Regions from separate parts of the Homo sapiens genome. Here regions 1, 2 and 3 are each linked to region 4. Evidence: fine-mapped expression QTL. A gene starts in region 4. Each other region holds a variant in brackets. All regions are shown on one strand. Distances are between the middles of the regions.

Region 1 (8,106 bases), 240 kb after region 4:
AGCTCTGTGGAGGAATGGAGGAAGGAGGAGAAGAGGGGAGATGCAGAAGCAAAGCCTGAAGACAGGAGAAACATTTCTGTGTTCTAATCTAATAAAAAGTCTGAATTTCCAAATTACGTTTTCTTTCCTCCCAAGATAGTAGCATTTGAAGGCATTTTAGGAAATCTGCAAGCTCAGGAGGTTGGGATTGCTTAGCACCAGGGCCTAAGAGAGAGGCTGCCTGGAGGGTCTGGACCCTGGAGGGTCTTTCCTTCTGGGCCCCAACTGGCCAGAACCCTGATGACTGGGAAAGAGGGGAGAGGGCCGGAGGGGGTAGTGGGTCTTAGGATGAGGGTTAACAGCCTGAGTCCCTTTCAATCTTTTTTAGGACCAAAGAAGGAGGTGCTGTAAAATTGTGGGACCAGGAGATGAAGCGCTGCCGGGCCTTTCAGCTGGAGACCGGGCAGCTGGTGGAGTGTGTGCGCTCCGTGTGCCGTGGAAAAGTGAGCACAGCCAGCTCCCCTGGGGGCTGGGCCAGGGAAGGGGGAAGTGTAGGTACCCTCCCAGCCGGCACTTTCTCTGGGCTGGTTTGTTTACTCCTTGAAACAAGGCCTCAATACATGAATTGTGCTGTAGTGGGAAGCAGCTTAAGAGAGTCAGACTCCCCCAGGAAGAACCAGCTGGGTGACCTTGGGTGTGTTCCTTAATGTTTTTGTGTCCAGCACACAGGTTTGTCATGAGGTTTTTGTGAGGGTCACATATTTATACATGACAGTGCCTTTCATCTTACCTGGCATATAGTCCCATTCAGGAGATGTTAGCTACTAGTATTATAGATGATATCCTCATAAGCTCAGAGATACTAAATAGTTTGCCCATGCCCTAAGCTATAGGGCCAGTAAGGAGGAGGGTAAGGGCCACCAAACTGTCTGACTCAAAGCCATTGGTTTCCAACTCATATTTGGGTAGCGTATCAAAAACAACTGTCGGGTTTTAAAGAATATGGATGTCCGGGCACCCACCTGGAGCTGGTGAATCAGAATCTCAGGAGTGGGACCTGGACCTGTATGTTTCCTTCTATTTCCTTCTATTTAAATTCCCCCAGGAGATTTGATGCACTTAAAAGCCAATCTCCAAACTTCTATTGAATACCTTGTGTTTGTTTTTAAATATCAGTCTAAGAATTTGCTTTCTAGATGCTGTCCATGAAAAAGGCAAACTGGATATGGAGTACCACATGATTCAAAACTGGGGATTTTGTTCTTAAATAGCTAAGTGATGCCCACCTGGAAGGGTAGTTATGGGAGATGAAGGCAGGACTATGCCTGGAGCCTGGAAGTTATCAGGAAGTAGTTTTTTTTTTTTTTTTTTTGAGACGGAGTCTTGCTCTGTTGCCCAGGGGGAGTACTGTGGCATGATCTCAACTCACTGCAACCTATACCTCTTGGGTTCGAGCGATTCTCCTGCCTCAGCCTCCCAAGTAGCTGGGATTACAGGTGCCCACCACCATGCCCAGCTAATTTTTTGTATTTTTAGTAGAGATGGGGTTTTCCCATGTTGGCCAGGCTGTTCTCAAAACTCCTGACCTCAGGTGATCCACCCACCACGGCCTCCCAAAGTGCTGGGATTACAGGCGTGAGCCATCACACCTGGCCAGGAAGCAGATTTTTGTTCAGTGGAAGGAAGAACTTACTAAGAGCTTGAGCTGTCCAAGAACAGGAGAATTGGCTGCTTTGCTCTGCAGTCACTGGAATATTCTGGCAGAGGCTGGGTGATGGAGGAGTCTGTGCTGAAGCTCTCACCTGAGGTAGCTGATGGAGAAAGGGCAAAGTAAGAGGGTGGAGAAGAGCAATTAAGAATGGACAGTTTGTTGTTAAAAACAAAACACTGGCCAGGCATGGTGGCTCACACCTGTAATCCCAGCACTCTGGGAGGCCAAGAGGCAGGCACATCACTTGAGGTCAGGAGTTCGAGACCACCTGGCCAATATGGTAAAACCCCATCTCTACTAAAAATACAAAAATTAGCCAGATGTGGTGGCGGGCACCTGTAGTCCTAGCTACTGGGGAGGCTGAGGCAGGAGAATCGCTTGAACCCAGGAGGCAGAGGTTGCAGTGAGCCAAGATGTCACCACTGCACTCCAGCCTGGGTGACAGAGTGAGACCCTGCCTCAAAAAACAAACAAAAACAACACTTCTCACCCCTTCTTATTTTAATATTAACACTGCAAAGGCATTTTCTCAAGTTACTTGTTTTTTTTTTTTTTTTAAAGACAGGGTCTCACTGTGTCACCCAGGCTGGAGTGCAGTGGTACCATCATCATAGCTCACTGCAACCTCAAATTCCTGGGCTCAAGCAATCCCCAAGTTTTTCTAATAATAGTGGTGTTTTAAATTTTTTTAACTGTGGCCAAATAGACATAAAATTGACCATTTTGACCATTTGTAAATATACAATTCAGTGGCATTAGGTGCATTCACATGTTGTGCAGCCATCACCACCATCCACAGAACTTTTCTTGCAAAACTGTAACTGTACCCACTGAACACTGACTCCCCTGTCCACCACCCCCATTCACCGGCAGTCATCATTCTACTTTCTGTCTCCATGAATTTGTCTACTCTAGATACCTCATATGAGTGCAGTCATACAGTATTTGTCCTTTTTCTAATAGTGTTTCAATTACAACAGGGAAAAATCTTAGTGGGAACCAAAGACGGAGAAATAATTGAAGTTGGTGAAAAAAATGCTGCTTCTAACATCCTGATTGATGGTCACATGGAAGGGGAGATCTGGGGCCTGGCCACTCACCCTTCCAAGGACCTCTTCATCTCTGCCAGCAACGATGGCACAGCCCGGATCTGGGACCTGGCTGACAAGGTGAGGCCGACTCTGCCCAAACTCAGATGCCCACGAGTGGGCTGCGCGGCAGTGGGAGCTGAGCGAGGAGAGGCCCAGCCAGCGTCATGGCAGAGACGGGGATGGGGCCAGGTAGGAGATCGAGTTAGAAAACCTAACGATAAAAGAAGCCCCACTCACCACACCCCGTCTAAACAATATAATTGAGAAGGATTATTCTGTTGTCATGAAAGAACCCACAAAACTAAAAATATAGAGACAAATCATGTTTTCCCTGGATGAGAAGACTAAAAATGATTTAAAATGTGAAATGTTCTGAAATGGGCCTAATGTATTTCTGTCAAAATCCCAACAAGGTTTCTCTTAGAGCTTGGGAAGGCAATGTTAAAGTTCATCTGGAGTAAAACTGTGAAATAGCAAGGAGTGGCTGGGCGGAGC[G/C]GGGTGGGTGGGAGGGAACAAAGAGTTCTTGCCGATCCTCATGGCCTTATCCAGTGTTAAAACAAGTACTCAAGTTCAACTAATTAAAATACTTGGTTTCATTTTAAAATGGCTGGTAAGTGTTTGTTGTATTTTTAGTGTCAGAGTCACAGAATAGTCAGGTAAAAGCTTGAGTATGGTTGCTAGACTTTTAAGTTAGTTTCTGTAATTATTTATTAAACATTATTAGCAACAGCTGTCACTACTTGACTAACTACATAACACCAGCTGCTTCATGGACATGATCAGTGCCTACAATAACCTTGCAAAACCCTTATTAACATCGCTATTAGTAAAACTCTAAAAACTGAGATGTAATTTACCCAAACACACCCAGCTAGTAAGTGACAGGGCCAGGATTCAGAATTTGAACTAGCAGAGGCAGAAGCTCACACTCTTTCCCCTAAAGAAGAGGTTGGCAATCTACAGTTAAAGGCCAGATCGGGCCTGTGGCCTGTTTCTACAAGTCCAGCTGCCCTCATTTATTCAGGTACTGAGGCTGTCTTGTGCTACAGTGGCAAAGGTGAGTAGTTGCGACAGAGACTATGGCCCACAGAGTCTAAAGTGGGTGCTACCTAATCATTTACAGAAAAAGCTGGGCAGCCTGTGCCCTAAAACTTGTTGTCCCCCAAGCTGCTCTAATCAAGACATACAGCTCTGCTCAGTTATTCAGGGACATTTACTCTAAGAAGCAAGAGATTTGGTGGCCTGCAGTGGCTGCGAGGGCAGCCTGACTTCTCTGGCCTGGTGCAGAATGTCTCCTGGAGACCAGCTGAGGGGGCCAAGAGCTCAGGTGACTTTCCTTTGCATCAATGTAGAAGCTGTTAAACAAGGTGAGCTTGGGCCATGCGGCCAGGTGTGCAGCCTACAGCCCTGATGGGGAGATGGTGGCCATTGGCATGAAGAATGGAGAGTTTGTCATCTTGTTGGTGAACAGCCTGAAAGTTTGGGGGAAAAAACGAGACCGGAAATCTGCTATCCAAGATATCAGGTACCTAAGTGGGTGGTCTGGGCATGGAGGAGAAAGGCAAGCATTCTGCTTACCAGTGGTTCCCATTCCAGCCACGGCTGGAATAAAGAACTCAGTTGTGAGAGGGTCACTTTCAACAAGCCACCTATGAAAGAATACCTTCTCCCACTCTCACTCTTAGACAAGTCTTTGCTAATTTCCATAAAAGTGTGGTTAAAATTACTTGTAAATGTCATTCTACATATTTCCCGGGGATTCGATCCAGATAAATTGTTGAATTCCGTAGAATGCCAGGAGAGGCTGACCACATGTGAGTCACAAGGTGGCTCTCATTGCCTTTAGGCCTGGAAGGCCTGTCACAGACCAGCCTTCGTGCCTGACCAGCCCCAAACAGCCCTCCTCATGGACTCTGCTCTCGGATTGCTTTTTCTAGAATCAGCCCAGACAACCGATTCTTAGCCGTTGGTTCTTCTGAACACACAGTTGACTTCTATGACCTCACTCAGGGCACAAATCTGAACCGCATTGGCTACTGCAAAGATATCCCAAGCTTTGTCATTCAGATGGATTTTTCTGCGGATGGCAAATACATTCAGGTATGCTTGGGGTTTACTTATATCTGGGGCAACCAATAATAACAGCAGTAATAACAATGGCCTATATTAATCGAGTCCTTACTGTGTACCAGGCAATGTGCTAACTCACTCTTCACCAGAACTCCTTAAGTAGTTACTTTTTCCATATTTTATAAATGTAGAAACAGAGGCTTAGAGAATTTAAGAACGTGGAGGAAATAGAATTTAAAATAATAAAGAGTAAGAAAAACAGGAAACACAAGCCCTAATCATCTTTAATCTGCCCCTCACCACCTCCTCTTCAGAGTTTCCTGATTTCTAGTTTTCTGGGGCTACACCTAAGCCTTGTGCCGCTTCTGGTATTTATTCATGTCTTTCCCAACTCTACTGGGTAGAATGGCCCCTCCATACGTGGGCCCTGGACTCCAGCCAGTGGGCCTGGAGTGAAAGCTCATCCCTGGGTCCCAGGGGAACTGACCGGTGGAAGGGAGGGAGAGGGTTCCACTGCTGGGACTGATCCCTAAAAACAGAATGATTTCTCTAGCACTCAAGAAATCTGCGTTTGTGAGCTGGCCTGGAGCTGGATATTCACTGTAAAAGGAGAGAGGATGTATTTATTCATTCAACTATTTGCTGAACCGGGCACTATGCTAGACTTTTAGATGGACAAAATGAGACTGGTCCCGTAACCACCCAAGGGGTTCACCTTGCCGGCTGCCTAGACAGAGCCCATTTCTCAAGACAGGGGAATTGCAATAGAGAAAGAGTAATTCACGCAGAGCTGGCTGTGCGGGAGACCGGAGTTTTATTATTACTCAAATTGGTCTCCCTGAGCATTCCGGAAGCAGAGTTGTTAAGGATAATTTGGTGGGTGGGGGGAAGCCAGTGAACCAGGAGTGCTAATTGGTCAGAGATGAAATCATAGGGAGTTGAAGCTGTCTTCCTGCACTAAGTCACTTCCTGGGTGGGGGCCACAAGATCAGATGAGCCAGTGTATTGATCTGGGTGGGGCCAGCTGATCCATCAAGTGCACGGTCTGCAAAATATCTCAAGCGCTGAATTTAGGAGCAGTTTGAGGGTCAGAATCTTGTAGCCTCCAGCTACATGACTCCTAAACCATAATTTCTAATCTTTTGGCTAATGTTAATCCTACAAAGGCAATCTGGTCCCCAGGCAAGAAGGAGGTCTGCTTTGGGAAAGGGCTGCTACCATCTTTGTTTAAACCATAAACTATAAACTTTCTCCCAAAGTTAGTTCAGCCTACATCCAGGAATGAACAAGGACAGCATGGAGGTTAGAAACAAGATGGAGCCAGTTAAGTTAGATCTCTTTCACTGTCTCAATCATAATTTTGCAAAGGCAGTTTCAGTCCCTGCTTCCTGGAGCTTGCTCTATAACAGAGAAGACAAGCACTAAACAGACAATCACAAAATATAAATATAATTACAAATTGTGATTATGTGCCAAGAAGGAAAAGTACAGCATTCCGGGGAGCATGTAACAAGGTGCTGAATTTAGATGCACTTCCTCTCAGCAAGTGATATTTAAGCTGAGGTCTGCAGGGTGTGTAGGTGTTAGCCAACAGAGAGGTGGGAACATTGTTCCAGGCCATCTGCATGAAAGCCCTGAGGCAGGAAAGAGCTCAGCTTCCCAGCTCATTCCAGGAGAAGCACTGCAGGGAGAGAGGAAGCTGAACAGGAAGGGCAGCAGCCATTCACTGCAAATGTCTTGATGGTAGGAAAAATGGTCTGTTTCCTTTAGAAGACTCCCAGAGCACCGAGGTTCAGGTTCTAGACACCTCAGAGATCATCTGTGTCACCCACTGTCCATGAGAAACCTGCCTTACCTCTGTACCAAAGGTTCTTGGTTTCCTGTGAACTGGGATTCCTGTGTATCAGAAACACCTGGCGGCTTTGTTACAGCAGAGACTGCTGGGCCCCACCCTTTCGGTGTCTGTCTGGGTAGGTTTGGGGTGGGGCCCAAAAATTTGCATTTCTAACACATTTCTAGATGCAGCTGACGTTGCTGGTCGGGAACCACACTCAGAGAACCGCTATCTTAGGACTCTGGAAAATAGCGAGAAAATGGATGAGAAGAAAGATGGGAAAATGGCCTGCTGTTGTTGTCATGGGCTGGCCATAGGCTTTGCAGCCTGGAGCTGAGCTTGGGTTTGGAGAAAAGCCCTAGGGATGCAGAGGCTGGGCAGTGTTCTGGGAAACTGTGCCCAAAGGGAGTCTGTGGGACTGAGAAAGAACGTTGATGAACATGGCTTCCCTTCTACCTACAGGTGTCAACAGGTGCCTATAAGCGCCAGGTGCATGAGGTCCCCCTGGGGAAGCAGGTAACTGAAGCCGTGGTCATTGAGAAGATCACCTGGGCCTCCTGGACAAGGTGACTGACTGGAAGAAAAAACTTGAGGAAAAGGTCACAAGGGAGTCTCTTGTCTCACTCAGGCTCAGCCTCCAAGTCTGTGCAGGATCTGAAGAAGCTGAGAAATGGAGCTGTCTTTTCTTTTGGGGGTGAGGGTGGGAGGCTTCTTGGCTAGTCTAGTTTAGGTCACTGGCTTTGATCTGACCTAGGTTTTTGAAATGCGAAGCCCCTCTTTTTGTGTAATTTCTTCTACAAGTCTCCAACCCCTTCCAGCAAGTTCAACAGGAAACCATCTCCCGTCTCTTGGCCAATCCTAGTGCACAGTGAGGCCTCCATTCGCTAGGGGAAGGGAGTGGGAGGGCCAGACCCCGGCTTAGCAGGATGAGAAACAATGGCTAATTCATGGGAAAAGAGACCATTTAGTCTGTGAGTTGAAAGGAACCCCTGCTGTTCTCCCCAACACACACATATTCAAGAGGACCACAGGGAACAGGGAGAGAATCAAAGATGGGGGTAACTTGTGTTTTTGGAGTGTAGGGAACTGAGGCAGAGGGGGAACAGTAAGAGCTGGCACAAATGTACAGAGGGGAAGGGGACAGATGCTTTCATGCCAGGAGAGCCACATGGCTGTACTGAATTACATAAAACAGCACCAGGGACCAATTTCATGGAATACAATTTTTCCAGAGACCAGGTAGGGGGTGGGGTTTCGGGATGAAACTGTTCCACCTCATAAGGAGCTTGCAACCTAGATCCCTCGCATGCTTAGTTCACAATAGGGTTCGCACTCCTATGAGACTCTAATGCTGCGGCAGATCTGACAGGAGGCGGAGTTCAGGTGGTAATGCTCCGCCACCACTGCTCACCTCCTGCCCT
Region 2 (8,106 bases), 34 kb after region 4:
TGGAGTGCAGTGGTACAGTCATAGCTCACTGCAGCCTCGAACTCCAGGCCTCAAGCTCAAGTGATTCTCTGGCCTCAGCCTCCCGAGTAGTTGGGACTACAGGTGCACATCACCATGTCTGGCTAATTAAAAAAATTTTTTTGGCTGGGCGCGATGGCTCACACCTGTAATCCCAGCACTTTGGGAGACCAAGGCGGGTGGATCACGAGGTCAGGAGTTCGAGACCAGCCTGACCAACATGGTGACTCCCTGTCTCTACTAAAAATAGAAAAATTAGCCGGGTGTGGCAGCCTGCACCTGTAGTCCCAGTTACTCGGGAGGCTGAGGCAGGAGAATTGCTTGAACCCAGGAGGCGGAGGTTGCAGTGAGTCGAGATCACACCACTGCATTCCAGTCTGGGAGACAGAGCGAGACTCCGTCTCAAAAAAAAAAATTTTTTTTTTTTTTAGAGACAGAATCTTGCTACGTTACCCAAGCTGGCCTCAAACTCCTGGCCTCAAGCAATCCTCCTGCCTCAGCCTCTTGAGTTAGCTGCGATTACAGGTGGGAGCCACTGCACCTGTCTTGAAAATCTGACCACTAGTCAGCCTTGAAAATCTTGATTTTCGTTCATTGAGACACATTTTGGACACCTGACTTTCAGAACTGTAAGTTAGTACATTTGTGTTGTTTGAAGCCACTAAGTTCATGGTAATTTCCTATTATGGCAGCAATAGGAAACTAGTACAAGCACCTTTTCATGTGCTTAGTGACCATTTTGATACCCTCTTTTGTGAAGTGCCTCTTCAGGTCTTTTTGACCATTTGAAATAACTGGGTTGCCTGTCTTTTTCTTATTGATATATATGAGTTATTTATATATACTGGATATGAGTACTTTGTCAATTCTATATTTCAAATATCTTCTCCCATTCTGTGGCTTGCATTTGTATTCTTTGATGATCAGACATTCTTTATTTAGTGAAGTCCAATTTATCAATCTTTATCAATCTTTTACTTTATGATTAGTGCTGTCTGGGTCCTGTTAATGAAATATTTCCCCAATTCAGGGTTATGTAAAGATTTTCCTATGTAATCTTCTCAAAACGGCACTGTCCAGTAGAACTTTCTGAAGTGCAGAAATGTTCTATGTTTGTACTGTCCAGTGGTAGCCCACTAGTCACATTTGGCTACTGGCCACTTAAAATGTGGTTAGTGAAAGCTAAATTTTAAATTTTATTAGATTTTAATTAATTCAAAATTAAATGTAGTTAGTCACATGTAGCTAGTGGTTACCACAATGGATACCACAGTTCCAGAAACTTTATTGATTTACCTTTAAAATTTAGGTCTGTGATCCAATGGAAATGATTTTATGAGATGGTCATGATTAGCAATTTGTTTTTTAAATACAGATATACAGTTAACCCAGATCTATTATTGAAAAGATCATTTTTTAACCCATTGAACTAGTGGCAACCTTGTCATAAATCAGGCAGCCCTAATAAGTCTGTTTCTGGATTCCATTCTGATCCATTAGTCTTCATCCTTGCACTGACGCCACGCTGTTTTAATTACTGCAGTTTGAACTCTGAGAATATAACCTCTCTGACTTTGTGGTACTTCTTCAGAGTTGTCTTGAGTATTCTGCGTCCTTTGTATTTCTGTATCAGTTTTAGAATTGATCTGTCAATTTCCATTAAAAACCTGCTGATATTTTGATTGAGATTATATTGATTGTATAAATCACTTTGGAGAGAATTGACATCTTTATAATATTGAGTCTTCCAATCCATGAAAATGATATATCCCTCTACTTTGTTCTCTTAGTAATGGTTTATAATTTTCTGGAGGAAGTCTTATCCATCTTTTGATGTTCATCTCTACGTATTTGATGGGTTTTGATGCTATTGCAGATGGTATACTTTCAATGTTCATTTTCTAATTATTTTTGCTAGTATATAGAAATATAATTTTTTAGTTTTTTCGAGACAGGGTTTGGCTCTGTTACTCAGACTGGAGTGCAGTGGTGTGATCTCAGCTCACTGCACCCTCCACCTCCCAGGCTCAAGCGATCCTCCCACCTCAGCCTCTGAGTAGCTGGGACTACAGGTGCAGGCAACCACGCCTGGCTAATTTTTCTATTTTTAGTAGAGACGGAGTTTCATCATGTTGCCCAGGGTGGTTCTGCTTAGGTTTTTAACCTCTTAACCGCTGTTTTCTGCTTGGCTAAGAAAGCTCTTCCTTCTTGTATGTACTGGTTAGGAATCGGCAAATACCTTAAGGGGAAATTGTATGCAGAGGGTTGGACTTTCCTCTCTGCCATACCATTTTTAATTTGGATCTTGGCCCTCTTCCTTAAGTTTAGGCTGCCTTGGAAGCCCTGAATTCTAAGTTTTGTTTCTCTCATTCAGTGAGAATGCCGTGAGCGATAGGTGGCAGTTTCTGCTTACCCTCTGGGCTCTGCACTGCAAATTGGTAAATGCCCCAAGGAGGCAGAGTGGGTGAAATTTAGGGCTTACTTTAATGTTCAGGGCATTGCTCTTCTGTCAGGATCCCTGCCCCTAAAATTCCTCCTGCTTTGGTTTGTTCATCAGTGTCTTCAATCGACTGTGCTCTTTAATTTTATCTAGCTTTTATAGAAGTTCTCAATGGAAAGGTTGGTAGAATAAAATTCACTTTGTCCAACACAGAGTGGATGTCTAAATGTTAACATTTTAATGGATATTCATTCTGTTTCCTTTAATGTGCTTATGTTTTTATGTCTGTGAGCATGCTGTTTATACAAGTTTGGGTTTTGGTCCTGATTTTATATTGTCATACACAGCAGTTTCTTGAACCATTTCTCTTGTATTTGGGCAGTAGGGTGTTTCTTTTATTTTCCTTTTTAAAAAAATCTTTTTTTAAGTTTATATTTTCCTTTTTATAAATGATGTTCTCAGGAGCATTTTTTTCTACAAAAAGCCTTTTTTTTGATTTGGGGTTATTTTCTTAAAAGGTAGGATTTCTAATTTATTTTTGTTGTGGTTTTCTCTGATACTCTGGGTCATTATTCCTGGCATACTGAAATTTAACAATAATGTGGCTTTGTTTGGGTCTTCCATCCATTGATCTTGCCTTTTTTGGGCCTTTCAACCTACAAACTCCTGAGTCTCAGTTCTGGAATGTTTTCTTGCCTTCCTTTCCATTCTCTTTGCTCTTTCTTCTTCAAAGCTTTTTGGTAGTTTTGAGACCTCCTGGATCTGTAATTGTAATCCTATTTTCCTTATTATTATTGTTTTCTATTTTCTGGTAGATTTTTCTATTTTGTCATTCAAATCGGTTGAATTTTTATTTTTATATTTTATATTTTAAAATGCTTTTTAAAAATTTACTGAATTTTTCTTTTTTATACCTTCTTGTTTCAATATATTGCCATATTTTTTCTTTTTTCTGAGTATATTAATTATGTCCCTCCCTTATGTCTCCTTCCTTTTCTCTGTCACCTCAGCATTCCCTTTTTCTCCTGTATATTTGTATTGGTCTTTAACTTTTAGGTTCAAGGCTTTCATCAGATGTTGGGCAGGCTTTGGCTCTCTTTGTATTTAAGAGCAAGACCCCTGAAAGCAAATTGGGAGCTCTATATGAGGGGCAGTGTTGATGAGTGGTTTCACCATAGGGTGTTAAGGTGGTGCACCGCCTTTGCAATGGAGGATGCTGTAATACAATGTCAGGATGGAGGGGCATTTTCTCTTGTGTTGGTCAGTTTCCCCAGAAAGGAACCTCCAATCTCTTGCCTGGGGGTGACCGTGGGGTATGCAGTATACCTGGTGGCAAGTGT[TC/T]CAGGAGTAAAATGGAGAGAGGTTTTATGGTTCACAAGGCCGCCGACTCACTTAACTTCCTGTATGAGCTTTCCTCAGCTGGGCAGCCCCAGAGAGTAAATCTCCAGAGTTCTGCTGGGTGAGAGGAGGATTCTGGTGGACTCACTGTTCTTTACACAAGCTCTCAACTAGTCCTCCTACTTTCACCCCCTCCCTCCACTCCAGCCTTCAGGATATGTATCTGCAAGGCCCTGAGCCTTTCCAGGTTTCCGGCTGTGAGCTGGCTGCTTCTTTCTGACTTCCCCCTTCTTCCTCCCACCCTCGCCCTGGTAGGCTTAGATTTCTTAGGGTTCTAAAATCAGTCACCACTTACTCATTTGCTTTCCAGCTCCTTTTTTTTTTTTTTTCTTCAAGGTTTCTTTTGCATACTTTATCCTTTCTTCTTGTTCTCTTTGTCTTTGTGGGCCTGTGTCTTTTAAAATAACTCCCTATCTTTTCAATTTGGCAAGAAGCATAGATAAATGCTTTAAAACTGAAAGTCTTGCATTGGATTTTGAATGCCAGTCACCGTAATTTTCATTTCTATGAGTTTTATTTGACTTTCACTTTTCTTCTGTTCTCGTATGCATTATTCTTACCATGTGATATCTACACCTTCATCTTTTTATTGATTTTAAATAGATTTAAAATCTTTCCAGCTGTTCTATTGTTTTCAAGTCCTGAAGGGAGAGGGGAGTGGGTGGAAAGAAGGGATGCTAATTGTCTTGCTTGCTGTGTCTCCTGAGTCTTCCTTACAGTGACTTGTTTTCTTTGTCCAGTGTAATACTATTTCTGGTGGGAGTCCTGTATGTCCTGGTTGTGGAGACATCCCTACAGAGTAGGTTTTGCCTTGCTTCTGATGGCCCAGAATGTGCTCTTATAGTTTCTCTTATTTCTGGACCTCTATACGTGTGGTTTCAGAAATGTTCTATTTTCTCATCTTTGCTTCACTGTCTCTTACTAATCTCTCAGATCTCTGTTTAGAAGTGATTTTCTCTGGGACGGTTTTCCCAGTCCCCCATTCCCTGTATTGTCCCCTAGTATATTATACTTCCTCCAACGTAGTACTTATTACCCTGTAGTATATCATCCATTTGTTTGTCTCTCTCTTCCTTGTGACTGATTCTGGAAGACAGGATCATGTTATCTTGTTCACTGTTAAATATCTAGTGCCTACCAAAGTACCTGGCCCAAACCAGGTGTCAGTAAATATTTTATAAAAGAATATGATGCTATATCTTGTTTTAAGAGGCTTTGCAGGGATGGGTTACAGATTGGTCTGAGAGCATTGTTTTTTTAATCCCAGTTTTGCTACATTCCAGGTGACACTCCTTCATAGAGCAATGTAGGGTAATGCAGGGGTGCTCTGCAAACATAAAATATGGGTGGTTCATAAGTTGCCTTTTTGAGCTATAGATTTTCTTCCTGTTTTCATCACTTCCACATATAGTACATAATGGATCACACACTTGAAAACAAAAAATAGGGATGGAGTGCTTGGCACTCAGCACACGACCCAGTATTCTTGTGTGGCTCCCTCTTAGACCCAGTGAAGCAGCCTCCATTAGGTGGATGTTTTCAATTCCATTTTCCATTTGTGAAATGTGTGATTATGAAACAGCTGTGTAACAGTCTGTTGTGTCTAGCATGTCTTCTTTTCAGGTAGTAGGAAATGACAAGTTCATACTAGATGAATAATAATATGCATATCTGATAATTAGGCCCACAGTTTACAGTGGCTTTGACTGGTATTTCATGTAGCTATCTTCAAAACTTGAGTTTAGGAATACTGTCCAAAGAATTTTTTTTATAGCTAATTGAATGAGTAACCTTGGTTTTCTGGAGTATTTTATGGTAATACTAGAAAGAATAGTGGTGGTAACTATTATAAGATCATGGGGGAAGTGCTAAAATGAGTCACTTATTTTGGAAATAGCAATAATATTATTTGCTAATATTTATTGAATGCTGACTAAACGCATAGTAACTTTATTCATTTAAGGAGCTTTTAAAGGTTTTATAGAGTTTTTAAAAGTCATAAATTCAGACATAAATTAGCAATGGATGCCAAATCTGGGGGAGAGAGAAAAACTTTAAAAACTCTAAAAACTTTACATGTACCAACTCATTTAAATCTAAAGAAAAGTTGGATTTATACCAACACATCTTCATCACCAAGCTAGCATGTGAATGCTCAGGAGAGAGCATGCAGAATCTGCTCAAAATGGAGACATTTTAACTATATCCCAATGTTAGGCTGTGCTAAGGTGATCCAAGAGTGAAGTTCGAGGTTGGACAAAATTAGATGTAATTAATAGTTGAGGAAACTTCCTTCCCTCCATATATATATATATAAAATCTTTGTTTACATATAATATATATTTATATATATTTTAATGATTAAGTGTAGGTGAGAAATAAGATAACTTGCTCTAGATATCAGCAGGATCATTATACACAGCAGGATCAAGACTCCGGCTCCGATTCTGGGCCATTACTCTGATGCATTAAGAATGTTAGTAATTTAAATAGCCTAACTTCCAGTTTTTCTCAGTTTCCACTATTTTGTAGTCAAATTGATCTTGGTCTTAGATTTATTTAGTGTTTGACTCGATCCATATTTTTAATCATTGAAAATTAATTTTTAACTACTTAAGTAATACATGAATAAGTTTTCTTTTTTTTTTTTTAATTTTAGAACATTCCAAATGAAGCTTTCATTTCCTGTCCTGGTCTCCCTCCATGCTCCCCAGATATTCACTACTGCTATGAGTTTGGTATATATTTTTCAGATCTTTATATTCACGTACTACCCAAGAACATAACAGAGTATTGCTTTATGCATGTGCTTGATTTCTTTACATAAATTCCCCTATTGACAGACTTCTAGGTTCTTTTGCTTTTCAAACAGTGTTTCAGTGAATCCTTGCACACATGGGAGAGTGGCCCTCTAGGGAGATATCTAGAGGTGGACTTGGTTAGTCACAGGTATGCCCATTTTCAGTTTCAATATAGCCTAGAATTGCAGTACCTAGAGGCAGCAGGCTTGCAGAGTACCTGTTTCCCTACCATCTGGCCGGTATATGACACTATCAAATTCAATTTGTTTTGCCAAATGTAATTTTATCTGGGTTTTCTTTCTTATATGAAGAAGTAAGTTTCTATCTTTCCCTTATACAAACAAACCTTGACAGAGAATCACTGCTTTTGTCCTGGAATTCGGAAGATTTCAAAGATGGGAGGTGTACATGAGATCCATTCTCTCTCCCCATTGCTTTGAAGTTGAGGGAGCATTTTTTTTTTTTTTTTTTTTTTTACTAGAAAAAGAATCTGGGACAGACTGAAAGATGGAAGTTACTCTGTGTCTGGGAAATACAAACCTCCTGAATCTAGAAGCATGAGGCTTAGTATGATGAATGGTGACCAATAATGTTTTTATTAATCTGGGAAGTACTGAGTTTGGTAATCAGTATCTTTGAGGTTTATGCTAGTGAAGTTAATCCCAAGGCATTTGAGAAACTAGATTTCAGCTTCTCTGCTTTATGGTTTTAATTCCACTTTATTCTTAGTGGTAGTGCAGCCAAATGATAATAACTCTCATCATTGTTGAGAAATTGTTTTCCATATGGTTATTTCATCTGAGAATATGATTTTAAACAGACTACCAAAGTCATAGTACTCCCAGTTTGTGGAACGGACTTGTTTAATGTTATAAACTTGAATTTTGCAGTTTTGTGAACCAAAAAATATGATAATAAACAATACGCTTTGTTTCTTTTTTATTAATGCTTAACTGAAAAAAAAGCATAAATGAAGGTGCTTATTTTTATTAATTGGGGAAATACCAGGGATTAAACAAAGCTTAGTCCTTCAGTGTTTATAATTTCTGGTAAGAAAGTTGAATAAGGTATTTCCCCTTTTCAGAGCAGCTTACTAGTTTTATCTGAGGTATATAATATGTGAATGTAATTAAATTATCAAATTTGGTTGATCATTTAAAAAATCACAAAGGCATAAAAGTGGACATTTATGAATCACATTGCAATTTGGTCAAAAGTGATTCTTTCACTAACATAAATCATAAACTCTGTGGATATAGCTTGACTTTAATTTGTCTGAATTATGATATGGAAATGTTTAAAATGGTCAAAAATAGTTGAGGTACCTATGCTTTAAGTTTAAAATATAAGTCTATTTAAACTTATTTTGGAATCATTTCAAACTTGTAGAAAAATAGCAAGAATAGTCCACAGATTTCATCCATTTTTAGTATTTTGACACATTTTCTT
Region 3 (8,106 bases), 64 kb after region 4:
GTTACATCATACTGTATTACATCCTACATAGAAAATGCTTTATTACAATGCCTGGGAAATGTCATTTACTGACCTCATGTCTTATCTCATAAAATAAGAAATTATTCATATTCCATGGCAATTGATGTATATGCATATTTCTTTTTTATTGTTCTGGATATAACTATGTAATGAAACACTCTGTTATATTGCAAGTAAAAATCAAGCTTAAGTCTAGATTTTTAATTTATGCTTTAAAATTTTCCCTTTAGCTAGTGTTTCAAATAACATTCAGAACATCACAAATTGTTTTCTGTAATACCATTAGGTCAGTTTGTACACAGCCTTTAAAAGTTCTTTTCATATCTGGAACAAAGCTGTAGTTGATTTTAGATTTAAGGAAGTGAAATAGAGACATATACCTTTTCTCAATCTAATTTAAAAAATTTAGTCAAATGTGGATATCTGGTGTGGCAAGGAAAGAATTGTCCGTGTAATTAGCTGTAGTTTATGCTGAATTGCGGCTAGTTTGAAACGACTGTGATGATTATATTCACTGAAATGTTTTTGAGGCTTGATTTTTTAAAAAGATTTTGAGAAGACAAGATTTTTAAAAATGAGATTAAAATAATTCTTACTTTCACCACCCTAAAAATTGACTACAGTATTTTCTTTTTGTATAATACTATAAATATGTATCATTGATATACTTGTAATGAGACTGTACATGCTATTTTGTATTCTATTTTCTCTCATGTTAATATAGGTAAATCCACATTGCAAGATTTTAAATATCTGCACATTAGTGTATTATTATGTTCATGTTCCATAATTTATTGAACTGTTTCAATTTTTTTTTGAGATAAGGTCTTGTGGTATTGCCCAGGCTGGAGTACAGTCGTGATCATAGTTCATGGTAGCCTCGAAATCCAGGGCTCAAGTGAATATCCTGCCTTAGCTTCCTAAGTAGCTAGGACTACAGGCATGTGCTACTCATGCCTAATTATTTATTTTTTTTGTAGAGATGGGGATCTTGCTATGTTGCCCAGGCTGGTCTCAAACTCTTGGGCTCAAATGGTCCTCCTACCTCAGCCTCCCAAAGTGTTGGGATTATAGGCATGAGCCACTGCACCTGGCCTGAACTGTTCTTTAATGTTAGATCTTTATGAAGTTGTAAATTTTTAAATCAATTAGCAAGCAACTAACTATATTGTGCCTATCACTTTTTTGCTATATTAGAATAAATATTTATGAGTAGAATTACCAGGTAAGAGTATAAATACTAATAAACCTTTTGCAACTTGTTACCATATGTATTTTCAAAAGTGTTATAAGACTTTACCGTACCACTAATAATGAATTTGTATAGCCTGCTTTGCCAATATTGGGTGTTACACATCTGACCCTCAAATAAAATGGGACTTAGGGATGCTACCCCCACCCCCTTGCGGTGAAAATCCAAGTAGAACTTTCTGACTCCCCAAAACTTAACTACTAATAGCATGCTGTTGACAAGAAGCCTTACCAATAACAGAAACAGTCCATTAACACATATTTTCTATGTTATATGTATTATATACTGTATTCTTTTTTTTTAAATTTATTTTAAGTTCCAGGATACATGTGCAGGTTTGTTACATAGGTAAATGTGTGCACCTATCAACCCATCATCGAGGTATTAAGCCCCACATGCTATTCTTAAAGGAAGCTAGAGAAAACAAATTGTTAAGAAAATCATAAGGAAGAGAAAAATACCCTTACAGTACTGTATTGTATTTGTCAATACCATAAGAGTACATCATCTGTTTACAGGATGAATTGTCTGTCTGACATAGCAGGCAACTGCAGCTGCAGACCTCAGTCTATGGCAAATCTCAAGCAATTCACCATTTTCTTGTAATATGATGACTTTTCTGTGCTTCTTTGGGAACACCTCCAGCCTAGATCACTAGTGGCACTTCACAGGGGGTCCCACAGTGTTATTTCAGGTTTATAGTATTGCACTAAACATGATGAAAAATACGAGAGAACTTCAAGAGATTTCCACCCCCCCACACACACACTTTTTTTTTTTTTTTTTTTTTTTAAGACGGAGTCTCACTATGTTGCCCAGACTGGAGTGCAGTGGCGCAATCTCGGCTCACCACAACGTCTGCCACCCAGGTTCAAGTGATTCTCGTGCCTCAGCCTCTCGAGCAGCTGGGATTACAGGTGTGAGCCACCACGCCTGGCTTATTTTTGTATTTTTAGTAGAGACGGGGTTTCACCATGTTGCCAGGCTGGTCTTGAACTCCGGACCTCAAGTGATCCTCCCACCTCGGCCTCCCAGAGTTACTGCCTCAGCCACCCAAAGGTGTGAGCCACTGTGCCTGGCCCCCATGGCCTTTTAAGGGATACTCACAACACTTAAGTTCACCACAATAGCAAAGTACTACAGAGGTACAGTGTGCACTATAGTTAATTTTATGCAGTTATGATTTAATACTGCATCTTTATATGTGTTTACATTTATCTCGACTGTGAATGATTCCATGTACTGTCTGTGTGTAAGTTTTCATAAGTTTTAATGTTTTATTATACATTTGTATAAATTTTATGGTAGCAAATGATAAAATAGACCAGTGTTTACATATACTTTTTGCATTCATGACATATCTCTTTCTTAATTTTTTTCAGTATTTCTAGGCTACACGGTTCATTTTTGAGTTTTTTCAAATTGTCACAAATCTCCAAAAAAATGTTTTAGTGTATTTACTGGGAAAATTTGAGTATAAGTGAACCAGCACATTTCAAGCTTGTGTCGTCTAAGGATCAACTGTATATATAAATATATATATATATATTTGTATGTGTGTGTGTGTGCAATTTAGGGCATGGTTATGGCCAGGAGGAAGTGGAGTGGCTACCCAGGGTGTTGGGGTAAAGGAGCTAGAGGTGGAGCGGCCACCCAGGGTGTTGGGGTAAAGGAGCTAGCTGAGAGCACCCATTGTAGGGAGCCTTCTGTTTTTTCTGGTGTAATCAATTTGAGAAGTCCCACCGGGGCAGTAGAGGAGGAGATGGCTGGGCCCTGTGGCTCCTATGCTTATTCCCTGAGTGTCTCTTTTCCCTGGAAGTTTTCTCTCTGCCCTGTCTTCAAGGAGGGTCATTCCCTAGGTCTCTAGTCCCAGCCCTTTTTTGCTACTCTTATCTTAAACACCTTAGGGTAGCAGAAAGTACCCTGGACTGAGGTGTTACAATTCTTGACAGCAAACAATCTAGGTATTTACATAAGCAGAAAGTCACTTATTGAAGGGTATTGGGACATTCACAGGATCTCTAGGAGAGCCAAAGACCACACAACGGAGAACAGTGCTCAGCCACAGTGGGGTCCCCTCCCCTGCTCAAGTGCTGCTACCGCACCCGCTACCTACCCCACCAGTGGGTTGTGGTGAAGGAAGAATCTCCTGTACCCTTTCAGGGGACATAGCGGTATAGGGAGGTGGACAGTTTACACAAGGTAGAACCCACAACACACATTCCTCTCCATTATACTGAGTTTCTGGCAAATATTATAGGACTCCATTGAGTCCAGATTTCAACAAAGAAATGGAGCAAACAATTAGAATAATTCCCAGATGCTCGAGTTTCCATGTTGAATCCAGAGGCTCTGTTAAGACAGCTGGTCTCTAAAGCCCAGGTTAAAGTAATGTTCTCCCCTTTCCTCGGAATTCATTCCCACACAGGTTCCCCAAATATATACTGGACAAGTGAAACTTGTTAAACATATACAAGTTTGTAAGTTTGCAAAATAGTGCCATTCTTTTGGTGTGTAAGCCTTTTTCTCTCGGGCTTGACTCTTTGTTTGACTCCCAGTGCAGTTGAAATCTGCCTCTGATTATGGATCTGGGAAGAGTGGGGCAGGGAGAGGTTAGAACATGAGAAGACTTAGGTTCTTTTTGAAAGATGAGTGCCTCAGGTGTGCCCACTGAGGTCTCCAGGCCAGGCAGGCACTGCCTAAGTAGGTTCAGCAGGGCTTCGGGGAGTTGTGCAGTGTGCGTTGGTGGGAGAGAAAGCGGGTAGGGGGCTGGTTCAGGGGTTGGTAGTTCTCGAAGTGACCAAATGCTCTCATTTTCCCATCAATATCGTTTCATAGAAATACCTGACAAGGCTCCCATGGTCTGAGCCTTGTCAATGAGATGGGTGAGGGTTGGGGGGGGGTCTTTGTGTGAACCCAGATGTCAGTTTTTAATGAGAATTTCAAGTATTTATATTTTAAAAGTAAACCAGAGGAAGATTGAGTTATGAAAAGATTGAATTGTAGTCATACAGACCTAGGTCTGAATCTTGGCTCTGCCACTTACCAGCTGTGTGGCCTGGGCAAGTTCCTTAACCTCCGTGAGCCGCAGTATGTTTGTCTGTAAAGAGAGATAAGTTTGTTTATCCTATTGGATTGTTCTTGAGCATTAAATGAGATAATGTGTAAAGTACCGCATAGTAATTGATCGATAAATAGTAGCTAATGTCACTGAATGATTAATAAATGCTTATGGAACTGAAGCAATCTTTAGCAATAAAGTGGAGCATTTTGCTCATGGGGAACTTGGGAGTCGTGTCTGGAGATGTCTCAGTCTGGGGTACTTCCTTAAGATCTCAAATCAGATTTTATAGGAGGTTTGTTTCACATGTTTAAGGTAGCCTGTGTGTTTAGGTGGAATTTGTTCAAGTGTCCATTGTCATAAATTTGTTTAATATCATTGCTCCTTCTGCATCAATTTTTAGGCCAGACCTAAGTTATTTGAA[A/G]CCCGGTTGTACACACCCCGTCCCCCGAGGCCTAGTTGAAACTTCCCTCACCTGTGCGGTGGTTTCTGCTGTAGCCTGCCTGTTCCTCATCTCGCAGACCCAAAAACCCAGCACACCCCACAGCTGTTGACCATGATGAAACCTGATGGTCAACATCAGAGTCAGGTAAATTAGACCCCCTCCCTTCGCACGTGTTTTCTTTAAACTAGCCAACCACTGCCCTGTGGAAAGCCTACGGCAGAACACCCGTGGACCTTAATAAAGGCTTAGGTCGCCAGGTTCTCGCTCACTCGCTCGCTAGCTGCCCACTTACTGGTTGAGCACATAGGTTCCAGATGGCTCCCGCTTCCTGTTGGCCTGCAAGGCGGGCTGCCCTCTTCTCTCTGGCATCTGTAAGTAACACCGGCTTCTGTTATTTCATGTGTTTTGTTGTGCCGGCTCCTGTGTCTCACTTGAACCTAACTCCCTTCCTGGTCAGGGCTGGACCCAGGTGAGAGAAGATCTACAAGGGTGGCTGCCACTATAACCGAGTTTTCTGTGAGAGGGGCATCTGGTCATGTGTCCACGCTTAGGATTAGGCGTCCAGCTGGGAAAAGAGGTATTCTGTGAGAAACACTATAAACATCTGGGGCCGCCCCCCGCCCCAGCAGGTCTAGAATCGATAGCTACTCTCCAGAGAGAGACCTCAAGACCAAGTTAGAGGAAAATTGAAGCTTAGCAAAATGATCAAACAAGATTTCGCCAAAATAACTGGTTATTTGGCTGGTTATATTAACTTGTCTAATAGAATGGCTTATCAGTCATTTTATTGGAAATTCCTGTTGTTTTGGTGTGAAACGGTGGTGAACACTAATTGGCTTTTTGAAAAATAGGGCCAAACTCTTCAGAACATATATTTTAGGAATCAAAACATTATTTCTCCTGAAGTTTTTATTGACTTTATTGTTTAAAATACATGTTTCATTTCCATTGGCTAGATGAAAAATGGAAAGTCATTTCTGACTGGTTGGAGTTCCATAGACTTAACGCTGAATCCAATGGTTAGTAACATTGGCTTTCTATTCCCTTCTCCATCCGCCCCACCCCCTTTGCCACTTGCTTACATTTCTTAATAAAATGAGGCAGGTTTGCTATCTTTTTGCTTTTTATTCTTTCTTATATCCATCATCTGTTATCCTTTCTCTTTCATGTGTTCTGTCTCTGCTTAATTCCTTCAGCACTTTGGTTTTATTCCAATAAATAGCTTCTGGAAGATACTTGCGTAAACAAACAAAAACAGCAAAAACAATGAAACATTTAATTTTTAGCAAGTGTTATGGTGACCTTTAGAAAGAATGTGCTTTCCGGCCGGGCGCGGTGGCTCACGCTTGTAATCCCAGCACTTTGGGAGGCCAAGGCGGGCGGATCACGAGGTCAGGAGATCGAGACCATCCTGGCTAACACGGTGAAACCCCGTCTCTACTAAAAATACAAAAAAATTAGCCGGGCGTGATGGCGGGCGCCTGTAGTCCCAGCTACTCGGGAGGCTGAGGCAGGAGAATGGCGTGAACCCGGGAGGCGGAGCTTGCAGTGAGCCGAGATTACGCCACTGCACTCCCGCCTGGGCCACAGAGCGAGACTTCGTCTCAAAAAAAAAAAAAAAAAAAAAAAAAAAAAAAAAAAGAAAAAGAATGTGCTTTCCAAAGTAGACATGGGTGGGACGTAACTGGCCCACCTGATGTTGTCTTCCGTACTTGTATTGGTTTTCTTCTCTTCTTCTGTCATGTGCCAGATACTGTATTGGATGCTTTACAAACTCTACCTTATTTAATTATATCCTCATGATATCCAGAAGGGAGTTAATATTCTCATCTTGCAGATGAGCAAACTAAGGCTCAGACATGGTCCTAATAGGTAGAATAGAAGGAATTTGAATCCAGAGTTAACTCCAGCACACATGCTGCTTTCCTTACCAGGGCTTGCTTCTACCTAAATAGTAAGTACAGGGAGAGCTTTATGACACAGAATATCTACAAATACTGATTGACTTCTCTGGCTCTTGGACCCAAATGAGAATGAGCTTCATGGTATGTGTGTGTGGTGGGGATTCATCTTATTTTTGCAATGCGTATATGTGTTGTATTTTTAAATGATGAAAAATGCACAGGTAACCTGTACAAGAGGGAGATCTAAGAATAGTCAGCATTAAGTAAATATTTGTTCAAAGAATGTCTTCCGATGACATTGCATAATTTCAGTTCATATATCTGAAAACTTAGTAATGACTAGTGATTTTTATAAGAGAGATTGAATAGTGGGCACTTATTTCTAATGAGCCAATTGAAAAGCAAATTAGATAACTTGCTGTGTGTATGGTGACAATTCATCCACTTTCTATTTTCTCTCCCACTGTCTTCCCACATATGTATATATTGTTTTCATTGACATATTAGTGAGTTAACTAGGTTAATTTTTATTGTGCCCAGAAAATACTTAGGTAATTTCAGATTCATTGTGGAGCGGGGAAGCACCCTAACTCTGTGAGCTGTACTCTGAATTGCAGAGTAAGTTTACAACTAGTGGGAAATATAAACATTGACAATATTTGCACTCTTAATCTGTGTGTACAACACCATACTCTATTGTCACCACCCATTTCACGGCTGGAGGGTCCATTCTTGTATCATTCAGATACCAGCATTTGGAAGCCAAGGACCTACATTTTAATAGACTTAGAAGCAAGAAACTGGTTATATTTTTGACGTACTTATCACCAGGCTTTCCCACAGTTGATCATTCACATCCATATTAGTATCAGGACCCTATTGTGTATAGAGGACATTGGTAACTTAATTTTCCTTTTTTTTTTTTTTTTTTTGAGACGGAGTTACGCTCTGTCGCCCAGGCTGGAGTGCAGTGGCGCGATCTTGGCTCACTGCAAGCTCCGCCTCCCAGGTTCACACCATTCTCCTGCCTCAGCCTCCCGAGTAGCTGGGACTACAGGCGCCTGCCACCGCGCCCAGCTAATTTTTTGTATTTTTAGTAGAGACGGGGTTTCACCATGTTAGCCAGGATGGTCTCGATCTCCTGACCTCGTGATCCGCCCGCCTCGGCCTCCCAAAGTGCTGGAATTACAGGCGTGAGCCACCGCGCCCGGCCGGTAACTTAATTTTCAAACTTTGAAGCAAACAGTCACAGGCCTAAGTTATTGCATTATCACCATTCAGCATTTCTTCTGAATAAATATTACAAAAAATATAATAGGTGTGAAGAGAAATTCAGAGAGGTGAGGGAGGACGTGTAGGGTTTTCAGCTTTATTTCCTGCTTCTCCTGAGTTGCACGTGGGAACACAGATGATGCCAGTACAT
Region 4 (8,106 bases):
TTTGGATAGGGGCAGCTATTTCTAGATCATGTATCTATTCTGATATATTTTATATAAGTTATTGTTTACATCCTTCCCACTTTATCTAGGAATGAACTGATCTTCTCAGAGCTAAAATATGGTGGCTGACTACTGTTTCCCCCCCTCCCCACTTTTCTGTAGCCTAATATTGGAAAAGAGTAGAGCAGGAAAATGGGTGAAATCTACTGGGACTAAGTACAGCCTCCACTAAGAGACAAGGTTTTGCTCTTGCTTAAGGTACTATGAAATGACCAGTTCCAGGACGTATCCCATGCAGCCAAAGATATATCTCACACCTATGAATGTTGGATTATTCCTTTGACTCTGCATAGTACAACCATCATTCAACCATCTCCCTGATGATGGCAGGTCCTGGTGAAACTATTTTTGCTGAAGACCTAAAGTAATATGTAGGATCTTCTCTAACGTATGCCCCTTCTTCACCTCAGCCTCTAAAAATGTATACTTACATTTTACTTTTCCAAATTGGAGCATTTTTTGTGAGAATTTTCATGAGTTTTTCAACTTATCTTCTGTCCTTACTACTGTTTGTTGAATCTTTTTCCCTCTTATTATTTAGGAAACTTCAGGAAGTAAATTCTGAGACTTTGCTTTACTCAAGTATTACTTTCTCATCGTTTAATAATAAATGGATCTATGTCTTGGGTTGGGAGGTATGGGAGTAGTGGTTAATAACACTGGTTCTGTAGTTGGACAGACCTAAATTTGATTCTGGTTCTGCCACTTATTGAATAATCTTGGTTAAATTACTTATTTTCTGGGTCTCAGTTTCCTCACATTAAAATGAAGTTATCTACTCATAGGGTTGTTGTAAGGATTTAGAGAGATAAGGGATGTAAAGTGCCATTTATTTTTTTCCCACAGTTTAAGAATCCTCTATTTTTAGTTAGGTACATGGTTGCCCAGAATAAAAACTAGTTCCTAAATCTCCTTGCAGCTAGGTATGCCTACATAACTAAGTTCAGACCAATAGCATATAAACAGAAAAGACTTGGGGTAGCTTTTTCTTTTTTATTTTGAGATCTCACTCTGTTGCCCAGGCTATAGTCTAATGGCGTGGTAACAGCTCACTGCAGCCTCAATCTCCTGGGCTTAAGCAATTCCTTCCACCTCAGCCTCCTGAGTAGCTGGGACTACAGGCCTGTGCCACTACACCCAGCTATTTTTGTAGTTTTTGTAGAGAAGGAGTGTCACCAAAGCCCAGCCTGGTCTAGTACTCCTGGGCTCAAGCAGTCCTCCCGCCTTGGCCTCCCAAAGTGTTGGGATTACAGGTGTGAGGCACTGTGCCTGGCCTAGGGTAGCTTTTGAGCATCTTCCTTTTAAAGGCAGCCAGGATGTGCCCCATGACCCTTCTCTTCTTTGAAATGTACTTGAAATGTACGTTTGATGGCTAGTACTACATCTTGGACCATGAGGTCTAGGGACAGCAGAGCAGAATGCTGGCATGCTGCCAGTAGCCTGAGTACTCAAGGATTCCTTTAAGCAGAGCCATCATTCTAGGCCTGTACTACCTCCAGGTTTTTGTGAGAAATAAAATTCTATCAAGTTTAAATCATGGCTATTTTGGGTTTCATTTACAGGTGAACTTACTCTACCATCTAAACAATTTCTTTCATCATTCTTAGCATTTAAGAGCAGCGTCTGGAGTCAGACTGCCTGAGTTCAAATCCAGGCTTTGTCACTATTTTGTGCATTCCTGGGCAAGTTACTTAAACTTTCCTTACCTTCATTTCTTCATCTGTAAAATGAGGAAATAACAGTAACTACTTCATAGGATTATTACTGGGGTGAAGATCAAATTATCTGATACACGTAAAGCACCATTTATAGTGCCTGGAACATAGTAACTGCTATTCATTACAACAACATAATGTTATTATATTATGAGTTTTACTCATGCTTTTTAATACTGCTTATTTCCAAAGGACACTACCAGTCTTATTTGACACTTTCAAGTAGAGGTTACTATCTACTGCCATATAGTAATAATTAACATTTATCTAATGCTTTACAAATTAACTTTTCACGTATGTATTACTTTGTTTCATTCTTACAATTATCCTGTGGGGTGAGTACTGCTATACTTTATTAAATGAGGAGAGTAAAGATCAGAGGATTTAGTGATTTGCCTAAGGTTACAATTGTAAGTGGCTGACTCAGACTTACTCCTCCAACTCATTTAACAGTCTGGTACAGCATGGGGGTCATTAGTTATACTAAAGATAATTTAGGAAATGAATATGTTCCATCCATTTCTATTTAAGAGACTTCTTTTCAATACATTTGTACATTTTCTCTGGAAAGTGTCTCTTCCTTTCTAGACCACTGCCACTATCTCTAACGCAGCCTCAAGCACTACCCCAGACTTCTAATACCTCATGCTTTGATTACTGCTTTCATTGCTATTCCCTTATTTTTATTCAAAAAATCAATGACTCCATTATTTTAAGGATACAGCGCAAACCCCTATGCTGAGCTCCATCTACAATCTAACCTTTCATGTGTCCTCTTGATCTTATATGAATTCTCCCTTGCACCAAACTGGGTATTCTCTTTAGTGTTCTCTAAATCCACTTTTCTGCATCTACACTTTTGTTTATTCCCTAAACGCATGTAGAACGCTCTTTCAATTTATCTTTACTTATCTCAATTCTATCTATATTTCCTAGTTCCTCCATGAAACTTTTCCTGATGTATTTTATCTGGAAAAACTCTTCCTCTTCTGAATTCTTATATAGAACTTACTGGCCAGGCACAGTGGCTCATGCCTGTAATCCCAGCAATTTGGGAAGCCGAGGCGGGCAGAACACCTGAGGTCGGGAGTTGGAGACCAGCCTGGCCAACAGGGCGAAACCCTGTCTCTACTAAAAATACAAAAATTAGCTGGGCGTGGTGGTGCGTATCTGTAATCCCAGCTACACAGGAGGCTGAGGCAGGATAATCGTTTGAACCCAGGAGGCGGAGGTTGCAGTGAGCCAAGATCACGATATTCTAGCCTGGGCAACGGCCTGTTTTGTCTCAAAACAAAACAAAACAAAAAGAACAACAAAAACTTACTGTCTTTATATAATTCATTTGGCACTGTTTTATGGCACGACATCATTGATCAACTATATTTTTGCTTCTATCTCAAACCTTTCTCAGGCCGTGTTTTTGTTTTTGGCAGTGTTCTTGTTGCCTAGCACAGTGCCATCTCACTTATTTGTTGATTCTGTTTCCTTAAAAACAAAGATGAGACCAATTCAAATCCTCATTACTGCGGGCAGCAACAAATCATCCAAACTCTGGCACTTCCAGTTCTTTCGAGCTTTCCTACCAGGTCGGAGGGTTGTCTTAAAACTTGAGGGAGATGAACTGAGTAAGCGATTACACTGAAAGCATGGGAGGGAAAGGACGTTCCAAACGTCCAATCCATCATCCTTTTGCAGCCTCTTAGTCACTGGGATTTTGAAATCTCTTTCCAAAGACTAGCTATGGCCCTAAATTGGAAATAGGCTACTTGAGAACACAGTGGATTCATAGTTCATCTCGGGCAGTTTTAGGAGAAATGCCACCAGCTTCTGCGTTTGAAGGCCAAGGTTAGCTGTTCATGGCGTGAGCACCTTCCTGCTTCCAACCTCCGGTTATCTGTAAATACCCAAGTCCTCTAATTTAGGACGCAGGTCATGGGAAGACGCTGGTTCTTAGGGCAGAAGTGAGCTCACATTCCCAGCATTTTTCTTAAACTTGGCAGAACTGCACTTTAACAAATTAAAATCCATGTGAATGAAAAGGAAAACTTAAGTAGGAAACAAACTTAAGCTTGAGTCAGTTACAGCATGGTGAGGATGTCGGTTACAGCAACACTCAGAGACCGATGAAGGAGAAATTCCAGTGGTGGGCTGGGAGACCGTCTCCATTCCAACTCCACCGCTTTTCTCTACAGAGACCCACGCACGCCAGCTCCCGCCTCAGTCACAAGGGAACGCCCGCGTGGGCAGGCAATCGTCCTTGGTGAGCCGGGATCTCCTCACCCCGAGAGCCGCAGGCTCCGCTGACGCCGGTACAGGTCTCGCTGCGACTCCCTCTGGGCGCGCGGAATCCTGGGACTTGTGGTCCCTTCCGCGCGCTGTCCGCCCTAACCGGCGCAGAGAGGACTACACTTCCCAGGATGCGTCGGGGGAAGAGGCCACAGGGACAGGCAGAGGGAGGGGGCGGCCCCAGTCCTCCGGGGCGTCGCTGTTTCCAAGCGGCGAGATCTCGCCTAGTAACCGGCAGCTGAGGTTCACTAGCGCGGCGTTGTGGCCCCGCCCCCGGAGCCCCGGCTGGAGGAAGAACCTGTCTCCCGCGGCGCCCCAGTGACGAAGTCCATCCCCGGGTGCGGGAGGCGGGGAGGGGAGGGCAGGCAGAGGATTTCGCTCGCTCGCCCGCGCGGGATCCGGGACGCGCCGGTGGCGTCCGCTGGCAGCAGAGGTTAGAGGCAGAGAGCGCGCGGATGCTCCGCGGGCGAGGCTGGTTCGAGAGTGGGAGGAGTGCAGGGCGCCGCCAGGGCGGCAGTGCGCGCGGGCCGAACAGTCCTGAGGGCGGGCATCCCTCGCGCAGCGCGCCGACCCCCGGGACGTGTGCGTCTGTGGGGGGTTGCTGTCCCCCGGGTCCCTCGGGCGACCCCTCTCCACGCTGGGCTCAGGGCAGGACCCGGGATTCCGTGGGACCCGGTGTTTAGCGCAGAGGTTTCTGGGGAGAAGTACACGATTTTTGCCACTTGTTATTTGATTTCTCCTCGACCAGGAGCGTTTGTAGGTAGCGCACTCCCTCCGACTGCACTAGTGCCTCGTTTCTTCCGAGTAAGACAATCTTTCATGATGCGGATTGGAGTTGCTGATCAATGAGAGCTGCTAAGTTCTTTATGGCTTTCTCGGTGAAGAGAAGGTTCACGGAGGATATGATTATTAAACACACACATGAAAACTAATTGGAGCATCTAAAAAATGACCATTGCATATTCGCCCTCGCTTATTAGGGAAACAGCAAGCGTTCCTTCAAATCGCATCAGCAACTGCCAGGCAGCAGCATTTACGCATATTTCATATCATTAAGGAGATGGAACTGGAGAGAGAAAGCGGGAGTAGGGGACAATTTTTAAAAATACCCAACTTGGTTTAGTTTGGGGATAATTTTCTTGGATTGGGTGACTTATGCGAAAAATCTGTTTCTTTCTTCCTCGCTCTCGCTTCCTGGATATAGACTGTCAATTTCGGATCCAAAGACGGCGATGGCAGAGCTCACCCGGGTTGCCTGTCAAATCAAGGCTATCGCAGAATAAATCCCGCCGCCTGCCGCGAAGCCCCGGCGCACCGCAAACTTCAGTGAGCGAACTGGGTGATCGCTGTTGGGATATGCAGATTCCTGATGTAAAAGGCGGGGTGGCCCCCCCGAGAGCCTCTCCCGGGGGCCGGAGCCCGCAGGTGCAGTGAGGCGCGCGCGCCGGTGCCGGCGCCCCCAGAGCCGCCTTGCCCGGGTAGAGGGAGCCCGGCGCCCGGCGGGGTCTGGCGGCCGCACACCGGCGGCGGCGGCTTGTCTGCGGCGGCTGCAGCGGATGATGGTGGCGGCCGGCCCGCTGGGCTGTGCCTGTGTGTCGCCGCGGAAATCAGCGCCCTGCGCCGCGCGCTGAGCCCCTGCAGGTCCGCCGCAGCCCCAGCCTCGGCGAGGACGGCCCCGGCGCGCGGGGGGGCGGGGGGCGCGCGGGGTCGGCTTATCATGGCGGATCGGACGGCGCCCCGCTGCCAGCTCCGGCTGGAGTGGGTGTACGGGTACCGGGGTCACCAGTGCCGCAACAACCTGTACTACACGGCAGGCAAGGAGGTGGTCTACTTTGTGGCTGGGGTCGGGGTGGTTTACAACACCCGCGAGCACAGCCAAAAATTCTTCCTGGGACACAACGACGACATTATCAGGTAAGGGGGTGGCCAGGGGCGGCGGGGAGGGGTTGCGTGTGGAGGCTGGGAAGGTGGGAAGCGGTTGACCTGGGGTCGGATCCGGGAGCCCCGTGGAATAGAGGATTCTCTCTGGAGCCGCATGGAATTACTGAAGGGCTGCTGATTCTAGGGCCAGGGCAGAAACAGTGTGGGGAGTGTAGGTGAGGAGGGAGAGATGTCTTTTCGCTGTATCCCTCCGGAATTCTGGCTTTTAAATCTCCAAGGAGTTGAGTGTTCTGATGCTTTCTTGCTGTTCTTTCCTGCTACAAGTGGAAGGAGCCTGGGTAACTATGAAACACTTCTTCCTTCCCTAACCAGGTGCACGGTAGGACCAATAACCTGAAGTGTGGGCATCATCTTTGGGAGGCTCCTCAGTGGGTTTCTCAGTAAGCAAGAGGATTAAAAAAGATCTAAAAGAAATTTTACTACTGGTAATTTGGAATCTTCATCTCAGATGCTTTGGACCTGGGAAATTTCTGCAGTGGGTGGGGAGTTTGTTCTCTAATATTTCACTTGGCAGTGTTTTAATGCCCAAAGCATATTTATACACTAAATGGATGCTTCCACAGCATCATTGAGGTTATTAAAGGCTGGCAGCTGCTGGATCACAAAATCCTACCAGCCAGCCCACACAATGACCAACATCTGCTAGCGGATGGCCCAAGACTGACTGACAGGAGAGCTCATTTGGATGAATGGCCGTTTTAGGGGCCCTCCCGATTAAATGGAAAGGGGTTATATTGTGATTCTTGGCCCTATCCTCTCATCTTTGGACCAGACACATTTTCCTCCAGCCCTTGTCAGCTTTTATGTGAGCAAACAAGGTATGGGCCAGATGCTGTTCACAGGGAATCCTTTTCAGCCTTCAGCAGTTAAGGAAGATTTTCGTCATATGGGAGCCTCAGCCCACAGGGAAAATGACTTGCTGAGGATGGACTACAACTGACAGAGACCATATTTATACCTTCCAAACTTGTGTGTTTCATTGATGTAGAACAACTACCATTACATTCTCAGAATATTGCCACTTTTGCTCTAAGTTTGTCTTTCACAATGAAATAAATGAAGTGATGTCATGTCCATGCTCCTAATTTCTCAGTGCAGAGAATGATTTCAAAGATCAGCTTTTTTTTCCCTTCCTAATGATGTGCTTATATTCCAGAGCCTTTTTTTTTTCTGAGACCTAAAGTTGAAAAATTGTTACAGAAGGCAAGCACTTAATATTCAAACTACAGATTTTAAAAAATCTTGACTTTTTTTGAAGATGGGAGTGCTAATGTTCTCAAGATTTAGTGGAACTAGCATGTAAAACTTTTTTCATGTCACGTATGACACAAATAGCTTTTTTTCTTCCCTCCCTAACATGGTAGTTGTTGTGCTTGGGGCATCCTTACATAGTTTTGTTCTGCAGATTTTGCTTCTCTAATTGCTAGGCTGATTATGAAAGTTACAGGTGCAAATGATTAACAATGACTCATGAAAAGGTTAGATGTTTAAAAATTTAAACCCATTATGTTTTTGCTCTCTCTGTCTTAATGCAGTGCTTTCCATTACAGCATCAAAATAAGATGTAGTCCTTTGGGTGAAGGGAGAGAGTGGCAATTAAACAGAAAATTCTCTGTGGTTAAATAATATTAATGTGACAGTTCACTGAACTACTTTGTGGATTTGAACTCCTAATCCTAATTTTTTCTCTGATACAAGGAAAAAAACCAAATGCACTGTTGAAGCTGAAGGTGGGAAAAGGGTGGAGTTGCAGTAAACCGTTGTTATGACAAGCAGCCGGGCTAGTGGGATGTGATGAAATCTAGCTTGGGTGGTTAAGGAAACATTCAGATTTGAAGAAAAGGTGAATGAAGTGATGTGTATAACTGGGTTTGCAGGGAGCCTTAACTGATGAAGGGAAAAAGAGACAGTTAGCATCTGATCTATTCATTAAGCTACTTTAGTGACATAGTAGTAAGCCTGATTTCAGAGGAAGGACTGTATTCATAATTCTCCACAATATTTGGTTGGGTCAGAGTATGTATAGGTGAGCAGAGCAGAGCAGAGTTCCTTAACATCCAAATATGTCTTTGTACACAAGAATAAAATTAAGTTCAATGAATTA

Alleles and levels. Positions count from the first base shown, and alleles are read on the strand shown. Sizes are in standard deviations (SD) of each study's normalised expression. Not every link is listed here.
In carriers of allele C in region 1, the expression in esophagus mucosa of the gene that starts at base 4,379 in region 4 tends to be lower than with G alone (moderate effect, 0.49 SD a copy in GTEx).

The links. PIP is the estimated chance that this variant, and not a neighbour inherited with it, causes the effect.
Region 1: its variant is fine-mapped to the expression of EML6 in esophagus mucosa (GTEx, PIP 0.94).
Region 2: its variant is fine-mapped to the expression of EML6 in whole blood (TOPMed, PIP 0.98).
Region 3: its variant is fine-mapped to the expression of EML6 in whole blood (TOPMed, PIP 0.91).

Annotation. Positions count from the first base shown.
Region 1 is chr2:54,959,853-54,967,958 of GRCh38, forward strand. It overlaps EML6 (EMAP like 6), which reads left to right. Exons shown (of 42, transcript NM_001039753.4): 35 at 368-482; 36 at 2,671-2,859; 37 at 4,134-4,306; 38 at 4,719-4,881; 39 at 7,148-7,251. Among named protein-coding and RNA genes, the nearest start is that of RTN4, 87 kb to the right of the region's middle. RefSeq lists an enhancer at 7,641-8,106. The variant G/C (reference allele first, on the strand shown) is at 3,277.
Region 2 is chr2:54,753,713-54,761,818 of GRCh38, forward strand. The region is part of intron 2 of EML6 (EMAP like 6); the gene reads left to right. Among named protein-coding and RNA genes, the nearest start is that of EML6-AS1, 6.7 kb to the left of the region's middle. RefSeq lists an enhancer at 2,000-2,069. The variant TC/T (reference allele first, on the strand shown) is at 3,799.
Region 3 is chr2:54,783,129-54,791,234 of GRCh38, forward strand. The region is part of intron 2 of EML6 (EMAP like 6); the gene reads left to right. Among named protein-coding and RNA genes, the nearest start is that of EML6-AS1, 36 kb to the left of the region's middle. The variant A/G (reference allele first, on the strand shown) is at 4,759.
Region 4 is chr2:54,719,284-54,727,389 of GRCh38, forward strand. EML6 (EMAP like 6) reads left to right here and starts at 4,379. Exons shown (of 42, transcript NM_001039753.4): 1 at 4,379-4,494; 2 at 5,266-5,975. The coding sequence starts at 5,779. RefSeq lists an enhancer at 3,912-4,131 and silencers at 4,272-4,761, 5,433-5,582.